Linked DNA regions of Homo sapiens: all the other regions are reported to be linked to region 1. Evidence: microRNA targets listed by miRTarBase, many of them from high-throughput screens and not tested one by one. Region 1 holds a microRNA gene; each other region holds the end of a gene's coding sequence.
Evidence for each region. The annotated mature microRNA hsa-miR-3680-3p reads UUUUGCAUGACCCUGGGAGUAGG and lies in region 1 at 1,607-1,629, shown strand. An mRNA with a match to its seed (bases 2 to 7 or 8) in the 3' UTR can be bound and repressed. Matches are read on the target gene's strand: a 7mer-m8 pairs with bases 2 to 8, a 7mer-A1 pairs with bases 2 to 7 and ends in A, and an 8mer does both.

Region 2: the mRNA of CLOCK is a reported target of hsa-miR-3680-3p. Seed matches in the 3' UTR shown: 7mer-A1 at 1,055-1,061 and 7mer-m8 at 786-792.
Region 3: miRTarBase lists SPRY1 as a target of hsa-miR-3680-3p. Seed matches in the 3' UTR shown: 7mer-A1 at 3,338-3,344.
Region 4: the mRNA of ETS1 is a reported target of hsa-miR-3680-3p. Seed matches in the 3' UTR shown: 8mer at 2,864-2,871, 8mer at 2,010-2,017 and 8mer at 867-874.
Region 5: the mRNA of ARHGEF3 is a reported target of hsa-miR-3680-3p. Seed matches in the 3' UTR shown: 7mer-A1 at 3,365-3,371.

The regions. Positions count from the first base shown.
Region 1 is chr16:21,502,586-21,507,692 of GRCh38, reverse strand. It overlaps MIR3680-1 (microRNA 3680-1), which reads left to right and starts at 1,558; the gene lies at 1,558-1,644. All of the region lies in intron 1 of LOC124903662 (a long non-coding RNA gene), which reads right to left. RefSeq lists an enhancer at 4,678-5,107.
Region 2 is chr4:55,430,960-55,436,066 of GRCh38, forward strand. It overlaps CLOCK (clock circadian regulator), which reads right to left. Exons shown (of 23, transcript NM_004898.4): 23 at 1-4,635. The coding sequence ends at 4,456. It also overlaps a transcript of TMEM165 not described here. Among named protein-coding and RNA genes, the nearest start is that of TMEM165, 38 kb to the left of the region's middle.
Region 3 is chr4:123,401,866-123,406,972 of GRCh38, reverse strand. SPRY1 (sprouty RTK signaling antagonist 1) reads right to left here. Exons shown (of 3, transcript NM_001258038.2): 3 at 3,218-5,107. The coding sequence ends at 4,422. Among named protein-coding and RNA genes, the nearest start is that of SPRY1, 7.6 kb to the right of the region's middle.
Region 4 is chr11:128,458,047-128,463,153 of GRCh38, forward strand. ETS1 (ETS proto-oncogene 1, transcription factor) reads right to left here. Exons shown (of 10, transcript NM_001143820.2): 10 at 719-4,530. The coding sequence ends at 4,315. Among named protein-coding and RNA genes, the nearest start is that of MIR6090, 62 kb to the right of the region's middle.
Region 5 is chr3:56,724,636-56,729,742 of GRCh38, forward strand. It overlaps ARHGEF3 (Rho guanine nucleotide exchange factor 3), which reads right to left. Exons shown (of 10, transcript NM_019555.3): 10 at 2,785-4,987. The coding sequence ends at 4,635. Among named protein-coding and RNA genes, the nearest start is that of TASOR, 44 kb to the left of the region's middle.

The DNA of each region.
Region 1 (5,107 bases):
TGTCAGTGGAGATGGTGGGGGCTATCTGTCAGTGGAGATGGTGGGGGCTGTCTGTCGGTGGAGATGGTGGGGGCTGTCTGTCGGTGGAGATGGTGGGGGCTGTCTGTCGGTGGAGATGGTGGGGGCTGTCTGTCGGTGGAGAAGGTGGAAGCTTGTACTCAGAGCAGGGGATATTTAGACTTGAAGGGGCCAGGGAGGAAGGTACTGGTTCTACTAAGCCCCATGTTCACTGGGCAGCCACTAAGTTAGGGACCGTGTGTGTACCGAGTGGATTCCGACAAAGAAGCTGTCTCAGGAGCCCCAGCCAGCTGCAGAGGGGGGCCCAAGCTCCAAGGCTGGGTGTCAGGTTTGCCAGGTGCTGGCTCCGCTAGGGGCCGCAGGCTGCGCTGGGCGGGACTGGGCTGGGCTGGTACCTGTGCCCGGTGTCAGGCCAGCTGTAGTTGCAGCGGTCAGCTGCCGCTCTCTGGCCCTGTGCGAACTGCTGTGCCAGGTGCACCCTGGGGGACCAGGCTGCCTGGGCTTCCTGGAACTGGTGAAGCTGCCGCCACTTCCTCTATGCTCTCTCCAGCAGGCAATTCTGGGTAAACGATCTTCATTTGCCTATAAAGCTGCACAGCTCACAGGCCTTGGACCGTTTCTGCCCCAGCCCCAGCATTGGCCCTTTGGACAGACTCTGAAACCGTGCGCAGAACGCACCCTGTCATTACAAATGACTCCTGGAGGCAGTCCCCGGGGGCCTGGCAGGAGCACCTGTGTTTCTGTGGGGTCTGAAAATGACAGACCAATCGCTTGAACCCGGGAGGCGGAAGTTGCAGTGAGCCGAGATCGAGACATTGCCCTCCAGCCTGGGCAACAAGAGCAAAACTCCATCTCAAAAAAAAAAAAAAAAATCTTCACAAATATAATTTGTAATGGCTGCAGAAAATTTCAGCTCTGAATGTACTGCATCCTAATCAGTTTCCTATTGTTGAGCATTAGTATAGTTTCCAGGTGTTTTGTTTTTGTTTTGCTATTAATAAGTAAAACTGAGATGAATACTTCTGTATCAATCTTGATCCTTATTTTAGATAATTTCCATTTCATTCCTCCCATTTCTTGAGTGCTTCCTATGGTCAGGTGCTGTGCTGTGTGCTGAGTATGGAGGAGGTAGGCTGAGATAGATGTGACCTTTGCTCTTGCAAAGCTGATATACTAAGGGTTGGACAGATGCTAAATGTGCAAAGAAACCCAATACTTGCAGATGGTGCTGGGTACTACCAAGGAAAGAAATAGGGTATATGACAGAGTACCTGGAAAGGGCACTGGCCAGCTTTTATGGGCAGGGAGGTCAAAGCAAACCTGTCTGGAGATGAGACAGGCCAGGAAAATCAGGGCAGGGGCCAGAGTAGGGCAAATGTGGTGCCTAGAGCCTCATTTTTTTTTTTAGACGGATTCTCGCCCTGTTGCCCAGGCTGGAGTGCAATGGCAGGATCTCGGCCCACTGCAACCTCTGCCTCCCAGGTTCAAGCAATTCTCCTGCCCCAGCTTCCTGAGTAGCTGGGATTACAGTACAGCCTCAAATTTAAGGAGGGACTCACTCACAGGATTGTGCAAATGCAAAGTTGGCTTTTGCATGACCCTGGGAGTAGGTGCCTCCTTAAATTTTGCACCCTCAGCAACTCCATCACCTGTCACTTTGCTAGTCCCAACCCTGATGGGAACAAATGCAGGGAAGGCATTCCAGATGGCGGGAACAGCAAGTACAAAAATCCAGAGGCCAGAAAGGCCTGGTGTGTTTCAGGAACAGAAACTCGGCTCCCATGACTGAAATGGAGTAGGGAAATCCTAATGGAGCCAGAGAGGCAGAACCACCAACAGGAAGAAGAAAAAAATGTTGGAAGTTATGAGAGTTGCTCACGTTTGATTCATTTGATTTATTTTATTGAAATGGAGTCTCACTCTGTTGCCCAGGCTGGAGTGTAGTGGCACGATCTAGGCTCACTGCAACCTCCACCTCCTAGGCTTAAGTGATTCTCTCATCTCAGCCTCCCAAAGTGCTGGGATTACAGGCGTGAGCCACCATGCCCCACCTGAAGCAATTTCTTTGTTGTCTTTTTTTTTTTTAACTTCTCTCATAGAAATAATTAACCCTCAAAAACACTCAGTGTTGACAAAGGGTGGTGTGAGGACACAGAAAGTATCACACTATCATTGGCAGAAACTTCCTGGAAAGCAACTTAACAGTCTGTATCCAAAGACTTAAAATCATTAACAGCCTTTTCCCCAATAACTCCACTTCTCGGAATCTATCCTAAGGAAATCTGCCACAGCCAGAGTGATTTTTTCCGTCCCCTTAAGAAATGGTCTCATCCTGTTGCCCAGGCTGGAGTGCAGAGGCACCATTATGGCTCACCACAGCCTGAAACTCGTGGGCTCAAGCGATTCTCCCACCTCAGCCTCCCAAGTAATTGGGATCACAGGCATGCCTCCACATCCATATGCCTAGTTGGATAATATTTTGACCAATAAAGAAAAAGAGGGCCAGGCGCGGTGGCTCACGCCTGTAATCCCATCACTTTGGGAGGCCGAGGCGGGCGGATCACGAGGTCAGGAGATTGAGACCATCCTGGCTAACACGGTGAAACCCCGTCTCCACTAAAAATACAAAAAAACAAAATTAGCCGGGCTTGGTGGCGGGCGCCTGTAATCCCAGCTACTCGGGAGGCTGAGGCGGGAGAATGGCTTAAACCCGGGAGGCAGAGCTTGCAGTGAGCCGAGATTGCGCCACTGCACTCTAGCCTGGGCGACAGAGCGAGACTCCTTCTCAAAAAATAATAATAATAAAATAAAAAAATAAAAAAGAAAAAGAAAGGTAGTACCAGAGATTGTGTCCAGTTGCTCAAGCAATTTCTAACTTGTCTAATTTTAAAAATTTTTAAATTTTTATACAAAATTAGCCGGGCATGGTGGCATGTGTCTGTAATCTTAGCTACTTGGGAGGCTGAGGCAGGAGACTCACTTGAACCTGGAAGGCAGAGGTTGCAGTGAGCTGAAATCACACCATTGCACTCCAGCCTGGGCCACAAGAGTGAAACTCCGTCTGAAAAAAAAAATTTAATATTTTTTTTGTAGAGATGGGGGTCTCACTATGTTGCTCAGGCTGGCCTATAACTCCCAGGCTCAAGGATCTTCCAGTCTCAGCCTCCCATCACTGGAATTACAGGCATGAATCACTTCATCTAAATGATTTTTTTTTTTTTTTTTGAGACAGTCTTGCTCTGTCACCCAGGCCGGAGTTCAGTGGCACGATCTCGGCTCACTACAACCTCTGGCTCCTGGGTTCAAGCAATCCTCATGCCTCAGCTTCCCCAAATAGCTGGGACTACAGGCGTGCGCCACCATGCCTGGTTAATTTTTGTATTTTTTTGTAGAGACGGGGTTTCACCATATTTGTCAGGCTGGTCTCTTGACCTCAAGTGATCCACCCACCTCGGCCTCCCAAAGTGCTGGGATTACAGGAGTCAGCCATCCATGGTGCCCCGCGTTTTCTCTTTCTTCTTCTCCCTCCCTCCCTACCCTCCGCAGCCCAGCCTGGAGTGCAGTGGCAGGATCATAGGTCACTGCAGCCTCCACCCGCTGGACTCAAGTCATCCTCCTGCCTCACCCTCCTGAGTTCCTGGGACCACAGGCACGCGCTACCACGCCGGGTAATTTTTGTAATTTTTGTAGTCCCCATCATTTAGAACTGGCAAGATCCTCCCTTAGTGAGGGATTGGTGGCCATAAGCAAGGAGCCCAAGGTGGAGGGGATATGCATGTGTGTGGAGGTGTCAACTCCTCGTAATCTTCAAGTACTTTTGGTAACAATTTTTAATTGCACAAGCGATATATAAAGACGTTTTCTTTGCAACATAAAATGATAGGTTAAGACTCCTTATGCAGATAAGGTTTAGGCACTTGTTTAAGGAGCATCCTGGCCCACCTTTTAAAAAATGTGTATGCATTCACGTTATGCATCAGATGCTTTAGGGAATTTTTTTCCCTGGGGCATGGGGCATGTCATGGGGTAGACAGTCAGGTACGTCTCCTCTACCCAGCTGATTCTCTTTTTTTTTGGAGATGGAGTCTTGCTCTGTCGCCCAGGCTGGAGTGCAGTGGAGCGATCTCTGCTCACTGGGAGCTCCGCCTCCCGGGTTTACGCTATTCTCCTGCCTCAGCCTCCGGAGTAGCTGGGACTACAGGCGCCCGCCACCACGCCCGGCTAATTTTTTGTATTTTTAGTAGAGACGGGGTTTCACTGTGTTAGCCAGGATGGTCTCGATCTCCTGACCTCGAGATCTGCCCGCCTCGGCCTCCCAAAGTGCTGGGATTACAGGTGTGATCCACCGCGCCCGGCCTTCTCTCTTTCTTTTCTCCTTTTCTTTCCTTTCCTCCCTCCTTTCCTTCCTTCCTCCCTCCCTCCTTCCCTCCCTCCCTCGTTTCCTTCCTTCCTTCCTTTTTCTTCCCTCCCTGCTTTCTCTCTCTCTCTCTCTTATATTTTTTTGAGACAGAGTTTCACTCTTGTTCTCCAGGCTGGACTGCAATGGTCTGATCTTGGCTCACTGCAACCTCGGCCTATTGGGTTCAAGCGATTCCCCTGCCTCAGCCTCCCAAGTAGCTGGGATTACAGGCGCCCTCCACCATGCCCGGCTAATTTTTGTATTTTTAGTAGAGGCGGGGTTTCTCCATGTTGGCCAGGCTGGTCTGGAACTCCTCACCTCAGATGATCCGCCCACCTCGGCCTCCCAAAGTGCTGGGATTACAGGCGTGACCCACCGCGCCTAGCCCCCAGCTTCTTTCACCAGCAGAAGGCGGGCAAGCCTCAGGGTGAGAGGACTTCAAAGCACATTTCACATTGCAGAGGACAGGGTTTGGTGGTCGTGGGTACTCCCTTCCCTTCCATCGTTTAGTTTTTTTCATTGGGAAGAAATGGTAAAAGGTGCTAGGACTCGATGGGCACATTTCAGGTGGAGGTTGGGAAGGTGGATATCCACCTGTCGATCTGACTATTTTCACTTTCCACCCCGCCCCGTAGAAAGTGGGAAAACTGGCACACGTGAATCCAAGGGCGCGCCTGTGTGCGCGCGCAC
Region 2 (5,107 bases), not on the chromosome of region 1:
AACCAACTACGGTTCACTGGACCTAAACATTTCTCAGAAATGTGTCATTTTATATAATTTCACCTAAGTAAGTGATGATTTGGGGATCCTTTAGAAATGGTTAACGCCTAAGAATAAACTTTATCAAAATGAGTAATTGCAATAAAGTGCTTGTTACATTTCAAAATGATGCTTTTAGACTGTGGTATGTTGTTTTAAAAGTGTGTGCTATTCCTTCCGTAAAGGATCCCCAGGCATGAGAGTTGGGTCTTCTCACCTGTCTCATAAAGCAGCAGCACTATCTTTTGGTAGGCTGACAATAGGCACATTACCCATGCGGATGAGGCTATACTAGTGCTATGGCAAAAGGGGAAGTAAATTAGAAAAGTGGGAGGCATGTAGAGGGTTCCTATTATAGTTATATACAAATATATTAAATATACTATAAAAATAGTCGATTCTATTCCTTTGCAATTACTTCAGAAGCTCCTTTTAGAAGAAAGCTCACCCAATCCAAACTTAAAAGGTTCTCTTTCTCCAAACACTTAAAATGGCAAGTGCCTTTGTGCTGTTTCTTCTCTACCATTCAAAAATTCCAATCAGCTTGTCCTGGCTAGAAAGACTCACTCAGCAACATTAATATCCAGTGTTTACCCCCTTCCAACAGGGACTCCTGTGGGACTAAGGGCCACAGGTAATTGGAAAGGTTATAGACTTGAATGCGTTTTACACAAATATTCATCAACAAACTTTCAATTACCAAAGAAACAGAAAGAAAAAAGCAGAAATACTAAAGTAAAATGCTATTTGCATTCCACTTTTAAAAAGTTTGCCTCAATGTAGTGGAAACATCTGAAAACATGTTGAGTAATATCCAGTTTAAAAGAATTTTCACTTGTCTGCGTAGAGTACTATTTTAAGGATCCCTTTCTAAGGCTTCCTGAACAAGGGTTCTTCTCCCTTCAACAGTGCTCTTGATGGAGCTGGACTGCTTCAGTGCTCCTAGCGTCAAGCAGACTGCTTTAAGGCAATGACCAACAACTACAGCACTTCTGAAGACCAAACATTTTCACTATTTTGCACTGAATGTTCTATAACAAACTATTCCAAATCACTGGCATCTTGTTATTACTATTCCATTCCTAAGCCAGATATAAATGACAAAGGAGAGCACAGCACTGTCAAGTTACCCCCGGAATTTGGGATGCTCGAAGGCTAGACCGTAGTATTTACTCACATGCTACCTGCATCTCCCATACTTTTCTCCAATATTTTCCATTCAAAAAATGAAGTACTTTTTAAGTGTCTCGGTTCTGGTTTGACACCACTCTAAGGAGCAACTTTATTAACCCTTCTAGTTCTCACTTGCATTTGTTAAACAATACTGACTCTCCCAAAACTATGATAACTGCAAGTCCAAAGCACGGTAACTGCAGAGTAGCTAGCATTTTTCCTGAAACTCAGTAGTTTCTTACCTAAAAAGTACCACCCAGAATAAGTGTTTTTAAGAAAGTGAGAATAAAGCAGAGGGAAGACTTTTTTTTTTTTTTTTTTAAAGCTGGAAGGTGTTTCTATTTGGTATCTTTAAATGCTATAGATTTGGGATTTTAACTAACAGCTTTGGCTATAGAAATGAAGAACAGACACTGCTGAATCTTCATTTGAATGCTCAAGTTTCATGGGGCAGGGTGGGGGGCGGGATAGCTTTGCAACCCAAATTTAAGAGAATCAGGAGGAAAACAAAGCAGCAAAGAGGCAGCTGGTGCTTACTACCTCTTCCACTACTACGCTTCAGACTGACAGAAAAGCAGCTAGCTGCTCCTTTAAATTAGCAATGGTTAATTCTAAGCAGGAAAAGATGAGCTGCGAAGAACAGTAAGAATCATAAAGGAAAATTTTAATTTTTTCCCCCGACTATTTGTGGAGATGGGAAATAATTGAAGGGGCTGGAGTAGGACAATGTGAGTAAACAGTTTAGACGTTTACCTGGGGCTTGTCTTATGCTTTGTTGCTGTCAACCTAAGTAGTACTCACAGTTCACCATCTTTTAAGTGTGGTATGTAGAGGACAGGCCTCAATATAATAGTTCTTCATATCTTTTGTTAGCTAAATCCGTATCACTAGGTATTGCCAATAAATAAATGAGGCACAACTCAGATATATATGGAATGGCATAAGGTCAAGAAAGGCAATTTGAAAGGGGAGAAGAACAATGCTATTGCCATATTCCACAACATCCCCCTTGTCTGTGTACATATGCTCAGGTACATACATATTCTGACAACTATTCTTGATATTCATGGGAATGTGGGAAATCTCTACTGGATGGTCATTTAGCTAGAAGAGCTCCTTGATATGTTAATTACTGATTGATATCTAGTCACACTTCTTTTGTAGAAGGGTAAGTACCAATTTTCTTTGGTTGTTTTCTTTTTCAACATTAATGTTCAAAGTAATTGTAGCCAGGTAGAATTTTCTGCAGAAAGACAAAGTATATGCCTTAAGGATAACAGCAAAGCAGAGGACAGAGAAGTCTTAAGAACTGGCTTAGCATTCCCCTGACCTCTTTACCTAGCAATTCTGCATTAGGTTAATCTTCATTATTCAGAACCTTTTCTGTTTTAACAACCTCAACTCTGTTACACATTTTCTTTTGAGGTCAATTTTGATTTATTACACTTGTCCTCTCCTCCCTTTCCTCAGTAATAACATTTTTTATATTCTAATAATGTATTTTCTACTAATCCTCTTTTGTTCTATCACTGTAAATTTCATTAGTACCATAAAATCTGTAAAATGTTTTTTAAATGTATGTAACTTGTATTGGAATTTATTACTTTTAGAATATGATATTGCCAAAGGAAATCTTAGTTCACGTTTAGAAGGCATGTGAGTTACAATATTCTAATGTTGTAGTGAAGGCATAGCCAAATCCCTACCCCTTCTTTTTTCTTTGTAGGAATATCAAGATCATATTGAGCAAATATTTCTGGTAAATTCTTAAATGACTAAAGAAAAATGCTGATTTAGGAAACAATTTTAGGATCACATTAATAACTATGATAGTGTTAGGTTATCATCTTTTATTTCTAAATTATTTGTACCTCCAGTCCAAGAGACTGATAGCAGTCTTCAGAGGAACTTATTAGGAGACTAATAATGACACTGACACCCACATGCTGTTAAAAAGGTACTAAGGTTTCAAAACTGCTACGGAAACCGGACAATGACTTCAAGATGGTGAGTTATCACCTGAATTAAAATCAAGGCACTATGGGGTTTTTTCCCCTCAAATAACCCTGAATCATTTCTGACTAAAAGAAGCATTGAAATTGTGAAGGATAATAAAAAAGATTTCAACAAATCCCAAAAGTTAAAATTCCCATGATTGAGAATGTTAAAAAGTGCCTAAGATGTTTTGTGTGCAAATTTTACCTCTATAACTGAAACATTCTTGAAATTACTTTCAGGCTTGTTGAAAACCATTTACGCAAATATTTCCAACTATGAACTATAACAAAATATGCAATCAAAACTCCCAGCCACCTAAAATAAAGCAGTGCAAATCCTATTTTCAAACATAATTGAAAAATAATGAAATGAGGGATATTTCTGAATAACTTGAAAATCCTGTTGTATCAATAATTTAACCTGAAAAAAAAAATCCATTCCCAGCAGCACATCATACCTCACTGAACAAACTGTGACATCACAGCCAAAGTATGAACAAAAAAACTTGTGCCCCGGAAAAGTGAACAGAACACTACTGTGTTGTAAACAAAAGGAAAAACAGGATGGATCAGTTTGCACATGGTGTCAGAATTTCAGGAAAGGTGCTCACACCTGTAAGGAAGAGATAACGCTTTCATGCAGCATACAAAATGTTTTGCTTTCTCTCCTTTTATCTAGACATATACATATTTTTACATCATCTGTACATAGAGAATTTGAACCCACACAACATTCTGAAAGTAATTACTGTTCCATCATTATCTGAAAAGGGAGAGGGGTTGGGGGAGGGGGTCGCTACCAAGTCTACTGGACTGTCTTCATGGCATCACTGTAAGCAAACCCCTGACATGGCAGTGGTATGTCCTCTGTAACACTTGATAAGAGGCACAGAACCACTAAAAGTTACTAACATCATTAGTGCCTTTCTGATTCCCTGGAGGTCATTTCATAGCTGAGCTTCTTAATATTTGGCAATATATTCTTTTTCCATCAAAAAATATCCAGGCACCTAAAACACTGTCAGAACTGGCTATGCCCCTATGATCACCTCCTGCTGGCTGGTATTTAATGTACATCTGTAGCACTAGGCAGCATTTTCTCTGCCAACTAATTCCAGGAACTAGAACACTCAATACTGCATCTCATGAAACTGCTGGAACTTTCCCTCCTTTCCTCAGGTCATCTGAGTAACTCTTAATGGGCCATCCCCTTCCTCCCTTGATGTCAAGAGAGGAAGCACGTGTGCTACTGTGGTTGAACCTTGGAAGGGTCGGGCAAGCTGTCAGTCCTGTGCCGGCTGAGTTGCTGCTGTTGCTGAGACTGATGTTGCTGGTGATGTGACTGAGGGAAGGTGCTCTGTTGTAGAGGAAATGCAGCAGAGAGAATGAGTTGAGTTGAGGGATTCCCATGGAGCAACCTAGAAGTCTAAAAAACAAATGGATTATGCAGCATTGCTTTACTCCCTTTATGGCACCCACATAATAGTTACTCACACTCTCCCCTGTCCATAGGGACAAAATCCTTAAAATTCTACATAATGCATATCACTTTCACTCTCTGGTTTAAAAATTCTAATTTGGAAAATGCTTATGAGGCCTTCCCTCTTTCTGAAAGTATGAGAGAGTTTCATTTTTTAAAGGAATCTGAGCTACAGATTTTATGGTATAGAAAGCAATCTATATCTTGAGCCAAATCACACACGTTCTTTCACTTTATGTCCTAAAGACCCATATTTTAAATTACAAAATTTGAGCATAGTTATGACTATATGAAAAACAAATACTCTGAGGCCAGACAGACAATGCCTTCTGCACACAGGTTCGCTCAGCTGGTTAGAGCGGCACAGTTAAGTGGCCAGGAGCGTGGTGGGCCCTGAGGTAGACTGAATGGTTCAAAC
Region 3 (5,107 bases), not on the chromosome of region 1:
TGATCAAGCCACTGCTGCACTCTAACCTGGGTGACAGATCGAGACCTCATCCCAAAAAGCAAACAAACAAGAAATGAAGAAAATCCTGTGTCAGATGAAAGAGTTCAGGCTTTACCCTTGCTAAAACATGGACAGTTTTTCTTCTCAAGCCATGACTTTGTTTGTACATCTTCAAAATGAAGACAGTGAGCTACATAAATCAGTTCCAAAGTTGCCTGATACAATCACCCAAAAAGCTTTTTGAAAATAACGAATACCAGGCCCCCACCCCCGGAGATTATTCTAATACAGGTCTGAGCTATGACACACACTTCTGAATTTTTAATTTTTAAACTAGATATCTATTTCTTTTCATACATGATTGAGAAACATTAAGATAAACTCTAAGATATATTTCTAGTTCTAGAATTCTACTGTATACAGAATAATGCCCCTATGAGGTGTTCAATAATAGCAAAATGGCTTAGTAATAATCTGAGAGACTACTATAAGAATCAATAGCTATCAGGTAAGTATATACATGGCTATTTTGATTATAGCTAATCAGTGAAGTAATGGAAAAAACAACCATCCAACCATCAATTAGCCAAAAGGACTTAAAAATTTTGTTTTCAACATATTTAAAAACACCAACACTCTTGCCAATTAAAAAGAAAATGTATAGTGAGAGTTTAGGATGAGAACTGCTTTTAGACACTTTTCCAGTTTGTTTCAATATTTCAATATATTTCAAAAGGGATTGTTTTTTAATGAGATATCTATCTATAGATATCGATAGATAGTCTGCTACGAAATACACCACTCCATTAAAAAAAGATTTAGGAAAAATGGATAATTTCAAAAATTAAATCCTCTGGAAATTAATCACCTGAGTCTGGTTTCATTATCGATTTTAGGATAAAAACATAGTTTTAAACTTATTTTTCACTTTAAAGACCATTATTTTTAAAGCTTTAATTTTTATTTTTTAGTAATAATGGAAATATTTTGTGGTTTGAATTTTGGAAACCATGTAATTATAATCCTATATTTGCAGATTCACTTTAGGTCTTCACACACAAAAAAGTCTACTTTTTCACATTCCATTTTTTCTGCTAGGTTACATTTTATAAACTCTGTAAACAGGAAACTACTCAATTACAAAAGTCCTATGTTGGTTTATTCACTATTAAACTATCTAAATAAGGCTTGTTTGAAATGAAAAAATTGGCAGTCAGAAAATATACTGGAAAGGAACCAGGTAACAAAAACATCCATTCTGTCAAGCTGTACTAGTAGGGGAAGAGGGACAAATGTGTGGAATAAAAAGGTTATCCCATCTGTTTGGCATGTTGTTTTTCATTCAACAGTATTAAATAAGTGGCAGCGGCATTGTAAAAAATTTCAGCTGATGCTTTCAAAGTCTAAGCACTTTAAAATGATGATCAGCATTAGGTTCAAGAGCCTAGGGCCCATAAGCTCTTATGAGGACACACTCTTATATTTCTTCTTCCTAGGTTTAAACCATCACAAAGGAGGACATTTCGAATCAGTGTTTATGCTTTGCCACCTGACAAGCCTCTTAGAAATCTGAACCTCTAACCGATCGTTCCTTCCAAGTACAGACTTGCCATTATGCCAGAGTTCATATACAGTCCTCGAAGCAGCAGACCAGCATCTTAATATTTTTCATGTATTCTGCATATATATAGCCAGAAGTTAAAACTCCACAGCATACTTCATTCTCATAAAAGTTATAAATTTCTTTCAGTAAAAGCTACTGCTTCTTAGTCTGGTTATTACAGCTAAAGACAGCTCTGACTCCAACTAATTATACTAAGGGTCTGAATAATACCGGAAAAAAGCCCCAAAGAGTATTTTGAAGAAGTCTGTGTTCATATACTTCATTAAGAAGCCACATCTCAATGAAAATACTCTATAAATATGAAAGGACCAGTGATAACATCACATAACTTGAATATCAGAGGAAAACACTCAAGTTCACATTTTTAAGTGCTACAGATCATGAAGTAGCCTCCAAAACAACTATTTACTTTTAAAAATCCTCCTGCTTTCAAAGCATAAAGGAAATATTTGATGGATTAAATATCACATTGCCAACTAATAGGTTTAGCGGCTTGATGGAAAAGGACTAAAACAAGTTTCTACCAATTATACCTTGTCTATATAAAACAAAGTCAAAGCCTATTTACAAAGAACAAATACGTAGTCTTAAACTAACAGCCGAGCCATCCATGAATAATGACCAAAACAAAAAGCTGGATAAGAGCTTTGATAACCTGGGTTCAAATTATGTCAGTATCTTATTCTCAAATGCAAAGAATTATTTTCAAATGCAGATAATGACTGATGTATCACTTAGGGAGTTAGTGAGACTGAGGACTCACATGAATAAAATTTTATCAAACTTAAAAACGGTGTATTCTGAGGACTCAAATGACCAAATATTTTATCAGACCCAAAGATTCCAGCTATGTAGTGGTTTCACCAGCCTAAAAAATAAGATTTAAAACACTTTTTCTACGTAAAATTTTAGGCCTTCAGGTTTCTTATTGCACAGGACTTGATGAGGTGTAATTTGGTCAGGCCACATTAGACTTACGAAACAAGTGAAAAGACAGGGACAGGAATGTTTTTGAAATGTCTCTGATACTGTGAATTATTCCCTTGGTAACTTCTAGAATGCTTTATTAAAGTGACAGTACCAGCGACTCCTAGCATATCTACAGAACTAAGTTCATTAAGTCTAGCTGATAAATCTAACTTTTTATTAACTTAAAAGTTAGGATAAACATTTAAAAAAGCTTCTACTGTAGATATGCCCCATTTCAAGAAACTATAATATACACAAAACCTCATGCTTACAAAATAGTCAAAGTAGGGAGAGAGTATTACAAAAAATTTTTACTGTACAAAATAACTCACTTGAGCATTTGTTAAAAGATAATTTGGATTACAAAATTTTGATTAATGCACTTTCCAGGAAATACTAGGTTGGTGCAAAAGTAACTGTGTTTTTGCCATTAAAAATGACCCAAAACTGCAATTACTTTTGCACCAACCTAATTATCCAGTTCATAATTTGGGCTCACCTATGTCTAGATTCAACATCTATAGGGAAAGAAGTAAAATGGGTGTGTAAGAAGAAAAAGTCAAAGCAAATAAGCAAAAATCATCATAATAGTACAGGCTAATAAATGAAGAAATCGAGAGACAGTTTCATTAATTAATATATTTTCTGCATTATAGTTAACATATGTACTTTCTTCGTGTCACCTTATTTTCCGTTAAGTATTGATATTTTGTTATATTCAAACATGAGTACATTTCAACAGTCTTTTGCAATAAATACCATAAAATAATAGAGATTCGCATAATAAATATTCTTTACAATAAAAAAGTTTAACAGACTTTTGTCTTAAAAATAGTCAGAATTCAACTTTGTGATTTATACATAAAATATACAAAAAGCACCACAATTTGTGGTTAAGGCAAGGAAAACACAGAAGAGATTAGAATTACTCAGCTGTTAACTATCCAAGGGGCCAAAAGGACCATTAAGGAGCCAAGATCACTTTAGGCAGCATAGTTCTGTGACACATATAGATTGATCAGCTATAAATATCAACTTGAGTTATCCAAGTGCCCTCAATGACAACAAAAATTTGGTGAGAAGCATGGGGTGAAGAAGGAAGGTGGCTGAGTCCTTCACAAATACGAAGGCTAGAGTGAAGATGGGCAAGGTCCAACCAATATTATCTCCAATGTGAAGATTTACATTGTAAGGCGAATCTAAAATTACATAGAAAGAAAAAATACACTTGGCATCTCCAGAGTAAGACAACAACAAAACTGAGGGGGAAAGAACCTTGAAGGAGAAAGAAGGAGAGGGCAGTGGTTAAAGGAAAATTTTTACGTTATAGCAAAAAATATATCCCCCATGCTACTTAAGGGGCCTATGCTAGGAAGATAGCCCTAACTGGAGACAGATTTAATACATAGCTTATTTAAGCAATTAAACAGTTGCTTTTTAAAAAACCAATTTCCCTGCTCCCACGGTACCCAATCAAAACAACTCTAAATCACTGTAGTCTGGATGTGGGTGTATGTTCATGTACACAACTTTAGAAAGTTGCTTGCAGAACAAAAAGGCTACACAAAAGCCCACTGGCTCTCAATACCCTCAAGTGGATGGCAGAGGCTCTTGTTGAAAGTGGGAGCCAGGTGCAGCTTCCCAGTCCACTCTTGCTGAAGATCATCCATGAGGAAAGAGAAAAATCCATGAGTTAGACCTTGGCAACAGGGGAAGAGAAGGTGGGAAACAGGGAAAAATTCTAAAGAAAACAAAAACAAAAACAAAAACAAAAAACAGCCACAACTTGAAAGCTAAAAGTTCAGGAGGTACAACCCACCTCCAAAAATCATGATGGTTTACCCTGACCCCGGGAGGGGCAGCTCTCCAGCTTACAATAGACAGTGTTGGAGTTCTTACATCTGCACCCTGGGCGATGGATCCAGTCATAACACCTCCTGCACAGCTTCAGGCATCCTTTAGCAGGAGGATAACAGAGTAAGCAAGGTAAAAATAAAGACATGGCTCCCATACACAGGTATCTAGAGCAGCAGTGTGATTGTGAACAGGAGCAAGGATTATCTGAATAGGAATCCCCTTCGTCGTCATTGGAGCAGTGGTAGAAGATGCCCTTGACTAAGCACATGCAGGTTCCATATTCCACCATGCTCTCAGCAGAGCAAAGGCACTGCCGGTTACAGGCCAAACAGGATGGTAGGGTCCTGGGAGCAGTGCATTCTCCACACTTGCACTTCCCACACTGTTCACAAATGAACTTGTGCTGTGTCAGGTCCTCTTTCAAGGAACCCTTCAAGTCATCCACAATCAGTTGCTTGGGCTGGGTCCGGATTGCCCTTTCAGACCTATGACCAGGGACTGGTCTGGTTGGTGGTGACCTTCCTAACAGTCCCTGTTCAGAAGAGGCACTGCTGTTGCTCCCAGAGCTGGCTGCACTTCCAGTGCTGGTTGATCTGCTCAAAATGGGGCCCCTGGCATTACTTGGGAGTACTGCATGTCCCAGGTGGCTTGTGTGTC
Region 4 (5,107 bases), not on the chromosome of region 1:
CTCTTTGTGAACAATTCAGCAAAAATTCTCTTTCCAGCTGTGAGCTGGGATTCATGTTGCAAATGTTGGTGTTAATTAAAAACATCCACCTTCTACAGTTTCAGCAACAAGGAAAAAGCACCATGCATGAGGTGTTCCTAAGCACTCCCCTCCAAAGCACTTATAAACATGATTTTATTTATGGCATGTGTTGCTAGGGGTTCTGACAGATATTATTATTCCCAATCTTCAGCCCCAGTGAAAGAGTTGGGGCCAAGGAGATGGATGTGAAGGGCCCAAATTGCCATAGAGCAAAATTAGTATCAGTGGTGGACACAAGAATACTGTTCATTTCCCACAGGATCCACTAAAGATGTTCAACTTTCTGTATTCATATCAGGAACGGTACGTAGCTGAAATCAAATGTTTATCTGTTGAGTCATTAAACGTTTCCTTCACATGGCTCTTAGTCCTTCGGACATGAAGAAGTGAGGTCTGACAAGGCCAGGGACATTCCACAAAGGATGACACAATATATTCAAAGATTGGGATGTTCGATGACTTCCCTATATTCCTGTTATATTTCTCACCTTATTAGGAAATCTTTATCTCCAATGGTCCTGAGCTAGTGAGATCAGAAAGACTAAACTGCATCCCTCTGTGCTTGCCTCTGGTTGGTTGATTTGTCCTGCTTTAATACATGATCCAGACAAGAAAGAATCAAGCCAAAGCCACAGCATTATGAATGAAATTCTTTGTTTTTAATTTCACACAGTTTAAAATACAATATGAAATCAGGCTACAGTATATAAAAAACTCTCCAGCAAAATGATGTGCCAGCATCAGCTACTAAAATAAACAAACAAAAAACTCCGCCATAAGAATTTTTTTGCATTTTTTTTTAAAAAAACATCGACACTTACATCGCTACATCTCTAAGCTACCTCAGTTCTGATTTTTAAAAAGCACCTGCTTTTCCTTTTTTTCATCTTGCTTCTAAATTTTCAGCTTTTAAAAAATATAAATTATATGAAAATACAAGTTGGAAAATAGTCAAACACAATATAACATCTTTTTCATCCCTATACTTCTCAGCTTAAAAAAAAAGTATTCTTAAAAAAAAAAGTTCAATAACTGAGGCAGTATTCCTGATAATTTTATTTTAATATATATATTTTATATATGTATATGTATACATATATTTATGGTTCCTTGAAACTTCTTTGGAATGTAGGTAAGAGTTCAACAAATTTATATAGACCCCAACAGAGTAAGCGGCATGCACAGCATGACTAGAAGAGAGATGGTGTATTTCTCACCATGAAGGTTAGGCAGGTTAATGCTGTAAAACCCAGAGTGTTCATCTCCAAAGTGAGGAAAAGCACATCTGATCTTTGAATGCTACCTCCAATCCCCACAGCCACAAAAATCAGGGCTCTATGTAGGGGAAGTCCCTCTCCAGAATGGAGAAGGGAACAAAAGTGACTCTGAACCCTAAAGCCAAAACCAACAAAGGTTAAGGCATCTCTGGGAAAATAAGGGTTTCACCCAGCTAGACCAGATTTGCCCATCCTTCCTCTGAAGTTAACGTGTGTTTTTAAAAAGCATAAACGCAACATTTCCAGTGTATAAACCACCCACCACTCTTCCTGGGATGGTCTCTGGCCTTTGGACAAAGGAGAAAAAACATCTGGCCAGATCGACAAAGCTGTCTTAACTAATACACTATCTACAAATCTTGAAAATGGTGGACTTAGAGAGAAAGGGAATTTTAGCAAACAAGCGGGCGGAGGAGCACTAGGAGGCACTTTCTTATATCTTATCTGCTATAGGAACTGCAGGAGTTATACTCACAGAAGGAGAGTTTCCGGCATAAATTTAATAGGAACGGTGGATGATTTGAGAAAGTGATTTTATGCCTGGTTGCAAACAGCAAGCAATAATTGATACCCGGCCCTGGTTCTACTCTTACCCATTATTGAAATGTGGAAAGACTTACCTAGAAATCTAAGGTATTATTTCAGCTGCAGTTTTGCATGTCTGCAAACACACACACACACACACACACACACACACACACACACACACACAACATTCACACACATGCACACATTCACACACACACCTTTTGCCAGTGCCCAACAAAAATCACATAATCTAAGAGAAAACAATGTAGTCCAAACAGTTCCACCCAACACTCCCTGAGCAGCTCCTAAAATATTTTGAGAGCTTCATTAAGGCACCTGCATCCAAAAGATCAAAATAATACAGCTGGGATAATTCTGCCTTTGCTTTCCATATGGATGCTCCAATTCATCAGTATGGGGACACTCATGAATCACAGAGCTATGTTCCTGATAATTCTGGGTCTGCAAGAGGATCTGGGAGTAAATAACAATCAATTTTCTTAAAGATATGCTAGAAAGTAGTTAGTACTTCCAATTTCTCATCCAAATCCCAAAAAGGGCCAGCCCTGAGAAGCTTACCTGAAATATTTCTTTCCTTCTCTCATGGAAGTCCATAAAAGCCACCCCTCCTCCTTATCCTTTCAACTGGGCAACTATAGAGTGAGGGAGATTCTAATTGTATTAGGCACTTTTCCTCACTAGTTAGATGTTGACTTTTCCTCTAAAACTCCATTTTCAGATTCCCCCTCACAACCAGCAGAAAGATGACTACCTTGCTTGACTATGTTTGTATTTAAACCTTGGGGGAACTAAAAATCTATTCAAATCTCATGGACAACCTTATTTTCCTCACTGAACCTCCTTCCTTAGTTTCCTTTGCCTTCAAGTCATTCCTCTCTTCTGGAATTAACCTTCACTTACCCTGTGCCAAGACATCAGACCCAAGCAAGAGGCCCTGGCATCACCTGTGCCATTCATTTTGCATACACAGTCTCACCTGACATCCTACCGGACTAATTTAAATTCTTCAAAGGAAAGCCTTGCACTTCTCTTCCAAAGACAGCCAAGTCACATTTTATTGAAATGCTCTCTTAATTTCCATCACTTCTAAAACTCAGCAAGTCTAAACTCTTCAACTTAGGTCGTGTCTCAAGTTACTTTTTCACTCACCAATCAGAAAGCCGTACACTTCTCTCTACTGAATAACAGAGTTGGCGGTGAGGGGGTGCAAAAAATGGAGGACTCTTGGAAAATAAGACATAAAAGAAAAATTACAGAGTGTTAGTTTGGAACGACATGCATTCAGGACTTATTTCTTAGGACCTGAGGGGTAATGCCCATGCATACAGCTTTTATTCCAAGTCATCTATGCTACAGATATAGGACTAAGAAAGAACCAAGTCAATCTTCCTCCTTCGATCTCCCTTCCAGGACTTCAACAGTGCTCCTACGTTTACTGTCGTCCAAAACCAGGGATGCAAAATACATTCAGTTCAAAGACTTAATGCTTCTTAGCTCAACATTAAGTCCAAACCCCGAGAATCCACTGATAACAAGTAAGTAAAGGGATGTGCTAATTTTTTTTAATTGTAGATGACATTCACACACATAATTCCCCTGTACCCAAATCAGCATTAATTGTCCTTCTTATATAAGTCCCATGAATTTGGGATCCCTGATCTCAGTGAGAGCGTTTTGCTTTTCCAATGGGGTCTATATAAACAGTTTTCTTTCATTGTGACAGAATCCTCAGCCGGCAAATAAAAACAAACTTACATGATATTGCAATACTGAGACCACCTTAGAGCTTAAGACGATTTTTAAGAAAAAAAATACTGGCACAAAATTTAATAAAATAAATTTTAACACAACAACGGTTTTGGCCCCTCCCCACTGAAGTCCATCTTTGCTTCAAAACTAGAGTGATAGGTAAATAGTTCTCAGATTTTCAGTGCATCCCCCCCCAAAACATGTTTCATCCCACCCACCTCTTTTTTGCCCTCCCAGACCTAAAAACAGAAGCAAATTAATTGCCTTACATCAGTTTCATGAGTTCTGATGTGACAATGTCACTTGCTAATGGGTCCACAACTCAAGACACTTTTTCATGGATGATTTTTAAAAATGATTGGACACATTAGTCTCTTTCTCTGTTAAGCCAGAGCCTTCAAGCTTCTGAGAAGGCCCTTCTCCCTCTCCTGAAAATTTGCTCAAGAATTTCTGGTCCCACCCACCCCACAAGTCCTGGCTTTCCTTTCCCAACTGCGCACAATTGATTACAGCTGCAACTGACTTAGCTCCCACCCCTGAAGGTAAAAAATGAGTTCTGGAAAATAAAAAATAGAATAACAATTCAAAATTCAGAGTCCAACCAACACGGCTGTCCTTGGAAGGTCTCAGCAGGGTTTCCCCAGCCCCTTCAGTGCCATCACTCGTCGGCATCTGGCTTGACGTCCAGCATGGCGTGCAGCTCCTCAGGGGTGTACCCCAGCAGGCTCTGCAGGTCACACACAAAGCGGTACACGTAGCGTTTCCCCGCTGTCTTGTGGATGATGTTTTTGTCGTAATAGTAGCGTAGGCCACGGCTCAGTTTCTCATAATTCATCTTAGGTTTGTTTTTCCTCTTTCCCCATCTCCTGGCCACCTGAAATTTAAAAAGAAAAATAAAGGAGGAGTAGGCAAAAATCTACAAGACAGGCCAAATATATATGTTTCTATGCCTATGCTATACCCATTCATGGTGACCCATGATGCTCAAGTAAGATGATTTGAGATTCATGTAGATATAGAAAATATTTTTCGGGCCTATCTCCTGAATTCCATTTTTCATGGGTTGGGCAAGGATGGGAGTCACAATGATTCTTTAAGTTGATGAAAACACAGTGACCCTGAACTAGGATTAAATATGTGACTTTAAAAAACAAACAAAAAGCCACACTATACATTCTCCTCTTTCCGCATATTATTAGTAAAATCTCCTTGCTTTGCAAGCATGAAATCTAACAGGGAAGTGTGAAGCGGAGGAGCTGAGCTGCAATCATACCTGCCTTTCATCAACAGGAAGTGTTTTTTTTCCATACCAGGGCACAAATATTTTCTCATGTCTGCCAGAACAAAGATGTTGTCTCTCCTGTTCATTGTTTTTTATCCTCAGAATTGGGCATGGCACGGAACCACTACTCCATAAACATGTGTGTAATGAAATAAGAAACTAATGAGCC
Region 5 (5,107 bases), not on the chromosome of region 1:
CTTGAAGGGTCCAGTGTCCCTGGCAACAGAGAATAAAACACTTGTAGGATGTCATTTTCAAACCTTTCACAGATGAGAGAGCACAGTTCATTAATACCTAGGTATGTTTGCATGTGGACAAGCTTTGGAATGCATGTCCAGTTTCCTAGGCTAAGTGATTAGCTCTTAAAGATACAGTGCATGACTTCTAATTCCTTGCTATTCCCTCACGTCAACTGAAAACTGCTTTGACTAGGTAGGTCTGTGCAGCTGACTGATATATGAACCAAGCCTGGAGAAAGGAGATATGATGTCATGAGCATTTTTTTTTCCAACTTGTTTCCCTCAATACCCTTCAGGTACAGTGAATACGGTCACCTTTTCTCACTGTGTGCTCATGCGGACAAGGTTTTAAATTTTGATGATTGTCAGATTTTTACTGGTAGGTTTGGGCTTGGGTAACCCTCTTCCCTTCCAATAGTGTAGTTCTAGAATTCTGTCAATAAACAAGCTAGTGTGAATTAATTGAATCAGCTGCATCAATAAGGGGGGGTATTCAGTGTCTTCTCTCCTCAATGCCAAGGGGAACCAGGTGAGTGAAACTGATTGGCCAGACAGTTTCTTTGCCAAATCTTTGAGAGTCCTCAGGCTTTGGGAGAATTAGTAAAAAACGGACATGGACAGAATGTAAATGGAAAGTTGAACAGGCTCTTCACCAAGATGGTGGGTTGCAGTTTCCTGCAGCCACACAGTCTTTGTTGAAACAGGGCTGTGGTTATGAAGAGTTGTGCATTCTTAGCTGCCGCAGACTGTGCTGGGAATGGAAACTAAAGCAGTCAGTGGCGGTGACCACAACCCAGAAGCTGAAACCATGCTCTAATTTTACAGAAAATTGCTAGTTCTGGCTCTGTTCATTGCTTATGAGTTTTCATTTAGACTGCAAGGATTACATCTAGTTGTATGTGAAATAACATCTTGAAAATTGACTGAAGAAAAACCATTTAGCCCTCACTCATTTGTACTAACCCACAAAATGTCAGTACAAACATCTTCTAATATACTGTAAGATACATCCTTTAGCATTGACAGTCAGTACAATTATAGGAGTGAAAAACAGAGGGAATAGCCAAAGCAGCAGTGAGAAAAGAGGACGGACAAAAAAGATGAGGAGGAGGAGGAAGAAAAAAATTAGGAGAAGCGACTTTGCATTTGGGAAAAAATTTGGACTTATATTTATTTATGTGAATATCTTGCCAAATTTGGGAATTAACAGTATGTTAAAGAAAATGGTGAGAGCTGGCCGGGCGTGGTGGCTCAGGCCTGTAATCCCAGCACTTTGGGAGGCCGAGGCAGGCAGATCACAAGGTCAGGAGATCGAGACCATCCTGGCTAACACGGTGAAACCCCGTCTCTACTAAAAATACAAAAAATTAGCCGGGCGTGGCAGCGTGCGCCTGTAGTCCCAGCTACCTGGGAGGCTGAGGCAGAAGGATGGCATGAACCCAGGAGGTGGAGCTTGCAGTGAGCTGAGATCGCACCACTGCACTCCAGCCTGGGTGACAGAGCGAGACTGTCTCAAAAAAAAAAAAAAAAAAAAAAGAAAAAGAAAAAAAAGAAAATGGTGAGAGCTTATTGTAAAGATAAGACTAACTACCAGCCTTATTGGGCCAATGTGCTATTGAGAATTGGCTACTAACAGCTTAAAAATGTTTAGCCTTTTCATCTAAAAAACCTCACTCATTGTGGGACAGAGTACTAATCTTTTTTTTCTTTTTTGAGATAGGTTCTCACTCTGTCACCCAGGCTGGAGTGCAATGGTGTGATCACAGCTCACTGCAACCTCTGCCTCCTAGGCTCAAGGGATCCTCCCGACTCAGCCTCCTGAGTAGCTGGGACTATAGGCACATGCCATCAAGCCTGGCTAATTTTTGTGCTTTTGTAGAGATGAGGTTTTGCCATGTTGCCTAGGCTGGTCTTGAACTCCTGGGCTCAAGTAATTCACCTGCCTTGGCCTCCCAAACTGCTAGGATTAGAGGTATAGCCACTGTGCTCAGACTAGAAAGAGTACTAATCATTTTAATTAAAGTAGACTGAAATTCCAGTAAGAATTTCAAAGTGAAATTTGCCTTCTTTTATTTAGCCTCAAGTTCCTCAACAGTTACCTATATTAGCAGTGAGATTCAACATTTCTTTTCTATAACAACTATGACTTACCACTTGACTTTATACATAGTATGGATTCCAGATAGAGTTATTAAAAGTGAACACATAAATAAGTGAATGAATAGAGAATGCTTGAGAAAACAGATTTTAGAATTATGAGTTCTTGGACAGACTCAGAGGCTTACGCCTGTAATCCCAACACTTTAGGAGGTTGTGGCAGAAGGATCACTTGAGGCCAGGAGTTCAGGACCAGCCTAGGCAGCATAGTGAAACTTCAATCTTTACAAAAAATTTAAAAATTAGCCAGATGTGGTGGTGTGTACCTGTAATCCCAGTTACTTGGGAGGCTGAGGCAGGAGGATTGCATAAGCCCAGGAATTTGAGGCTGCAGTGAGCTATGATCACACCACCACACTCCAGCCTGGGTGACAGAGTGAGATCCTGTTTCAAAAGAAAGAAAGAAAAAAAAAATGAGTTCTGTGAAAGTTTTGATAGATCAAATAAAAGCATTTGTATCAATCTGCATCCTATTTTAAAGTTTGTATTCAGGAACCACAAACAAAAATTTCAGAAAGAACCTCCCCAGGAACACAGCTGAAACCTGTATTTTGTTTGTAGGACAAACACTGTACACATGGAGGATGACTTAATAATGTAATTTATTTGAAATACTTCCAGAAAAGTTTAAGGCCATTATACAAAAACATTCATTTCATCAAAACATTCATTGACCACCTTCCCATAGGCCAACACTTGACAAACCTCTTTTCCCAACACACTGGCTGATGGCTTCTAAAAGTGGCTGATGGCGCCTACAAAGAATCATTCATTCTTTTCTTCACCAATAAAGGCTGTTCTTGGCTTTCCTCTGCTTCTGTCTGCAGCAGGTTCACTTGCTGTATCAATAACGACTTGAGAAAGCAGTTTTAAATAAACTTGTAATAGAAAAAATTCATCATGTTTAAGACCTATAAATACAGAAATATGTTTTACAGGGTAAAATTGATCACAATATCCTTGTTTTCAAAAAATAATAAAGTATATACCTTGTTTTTATATTGATATATCTTGTCACACAGCTTGAATGCACATGATATATGTACATAATAAAATGACATCAATGCATTTACTGCTTTCTTTTCTGTAAACTTGAAAGACAGATTAAAAAAAACTTTTTGGCAATAATTTAGAATAATTACCACTAGTGCTGGTGTGGGTATAATTTTGCACAGGTCATCCTTAATATTTACACTTGCAGGGAGCTCTTCTAGGTACTTAGCTGTTTTTAAGGTCTGCACTTTACCCTGCACTGTAAATCAAGGCTGGACAAAGAGGTTACTAATCTGGCTAGCTGATTCTAATTAATCAGAGTTAATGAAATTGGCCTCTGGAGAACATAATTACAATTCTGATTATAGCACAGAACCAGAGATGGCAAATTGACGACCCAAAAGCAGAGCAGGAAAGCCCAAAGCTCTGGCCTTTCTCAGAAGGCACTGGACCATGCTTTTCTCTCAATGGCTCCCACAGAAGGTTCTGACGAAGTGCTTTTCATTCCAAATTCTTCCTCTCCTGTGTTTCTATAAACAGTGTCATCGATAGAGTCATGGTCTCTCTTCCTTGTTGCTTCATTCATTCTCTAAAATAATGAGTAGGCCTAGGCAGATGAAACACAATGAATACAGGGCCTTCTTGTTATCCTGGCAGGCCTTCCTAAGCCCTTTGGGTTCTATTCTGATGTTTTAGGCTAGCAACCAACTATGAGAGACACCTCCTGGTGCCATGTGCATTTCAGTTAAAGATTCAGAGCTGGCAGCCGCTTCTGTCCTGGCCCTTTTAAGGTCAGCCTCTATTTTATGTCCTAATACATTCTTGCATCAAACTTGCACTGGATGAAGTTGCAAAGTTCAGACAATGCATCCTCCTTTGCAAAATTAAGCCTTCAGAATCCCCAGGGATGTTTTCAAGCTTTCTAGTTGAGTAAGATCAAACCAAGTTCACTTCATGAGTTGGTCTTTCCTGATTCTCTCTCTAATACCATCCCAATACACAGATGAGTTCCTCATGCCCTATTTACAAGGCCGTCTAAATTCCGTGCCTTTAGCTACCACATCTAAGAGCTGGGAAAGTGGTACAGAAGCACAAGAGGAAGGACTCTTCAAACAATCTATGTAAAACAGTAGTTTTGAGATTCTTTTTCTATTTTTTTAAAATCCAGCAGGACAACTGAAAGTAACTTGTTTGAGTACCTCTCCATCCATCCAGACACTTGGGAAATACAACACAGGGTAATAGTTGCCACAGATTCCAGCTTACACAGACAGATTGGCAGTTACAGTACTAGGGACAAAGGTACAGATACGAGAGACTGGGCCAACATGTATACTTTCACAAAAGTATGAAAAAGTGCTTCTCCAAACCGTTCCATCTGTGGAATGCAAATACTGTACAGGTAAGATGCAGGCCTGCTTCCCGAAGTGCACATGCTTCTGTCAGACGTTACTTTCACCGTGCCTGCTGTTTCCACAGGAAGAGTCTGTCTGTTCCATGCGCTCACAGTCGAGGCTGACCTCACTCGTGTCCATACTACAGTCTGACTCACTGTCCGATTGGTCCATCTGCTCAAGTTTTGTTTCTCCCTGTAGCTCTCTGCTCCCGGTGGTGGGATTTAGGAACGATCCCTCGGAGTCAAGCACCCCAGCTTGCCCGGCAGCACACAAAACTGTTTCTTTGGCTTGACGAATACAGTTAAGCCACTGCTGTTTGTTGAAAGTGTCATTGGCTTGTAGCGAGTGGGTCTGACTTTGGGATCCATTTTTGAAACTGACTCTGAAGAAGTTTTTAACTAGAAAGGAAAAACACATGAAAAACAAAGTCAATGGACAGATCCTTCCTCAGGCCAAAGAGAACACACGTAGTGACACTAAACCCCAGAATCCATGGCAGGTATTGCTGATAACAAAAC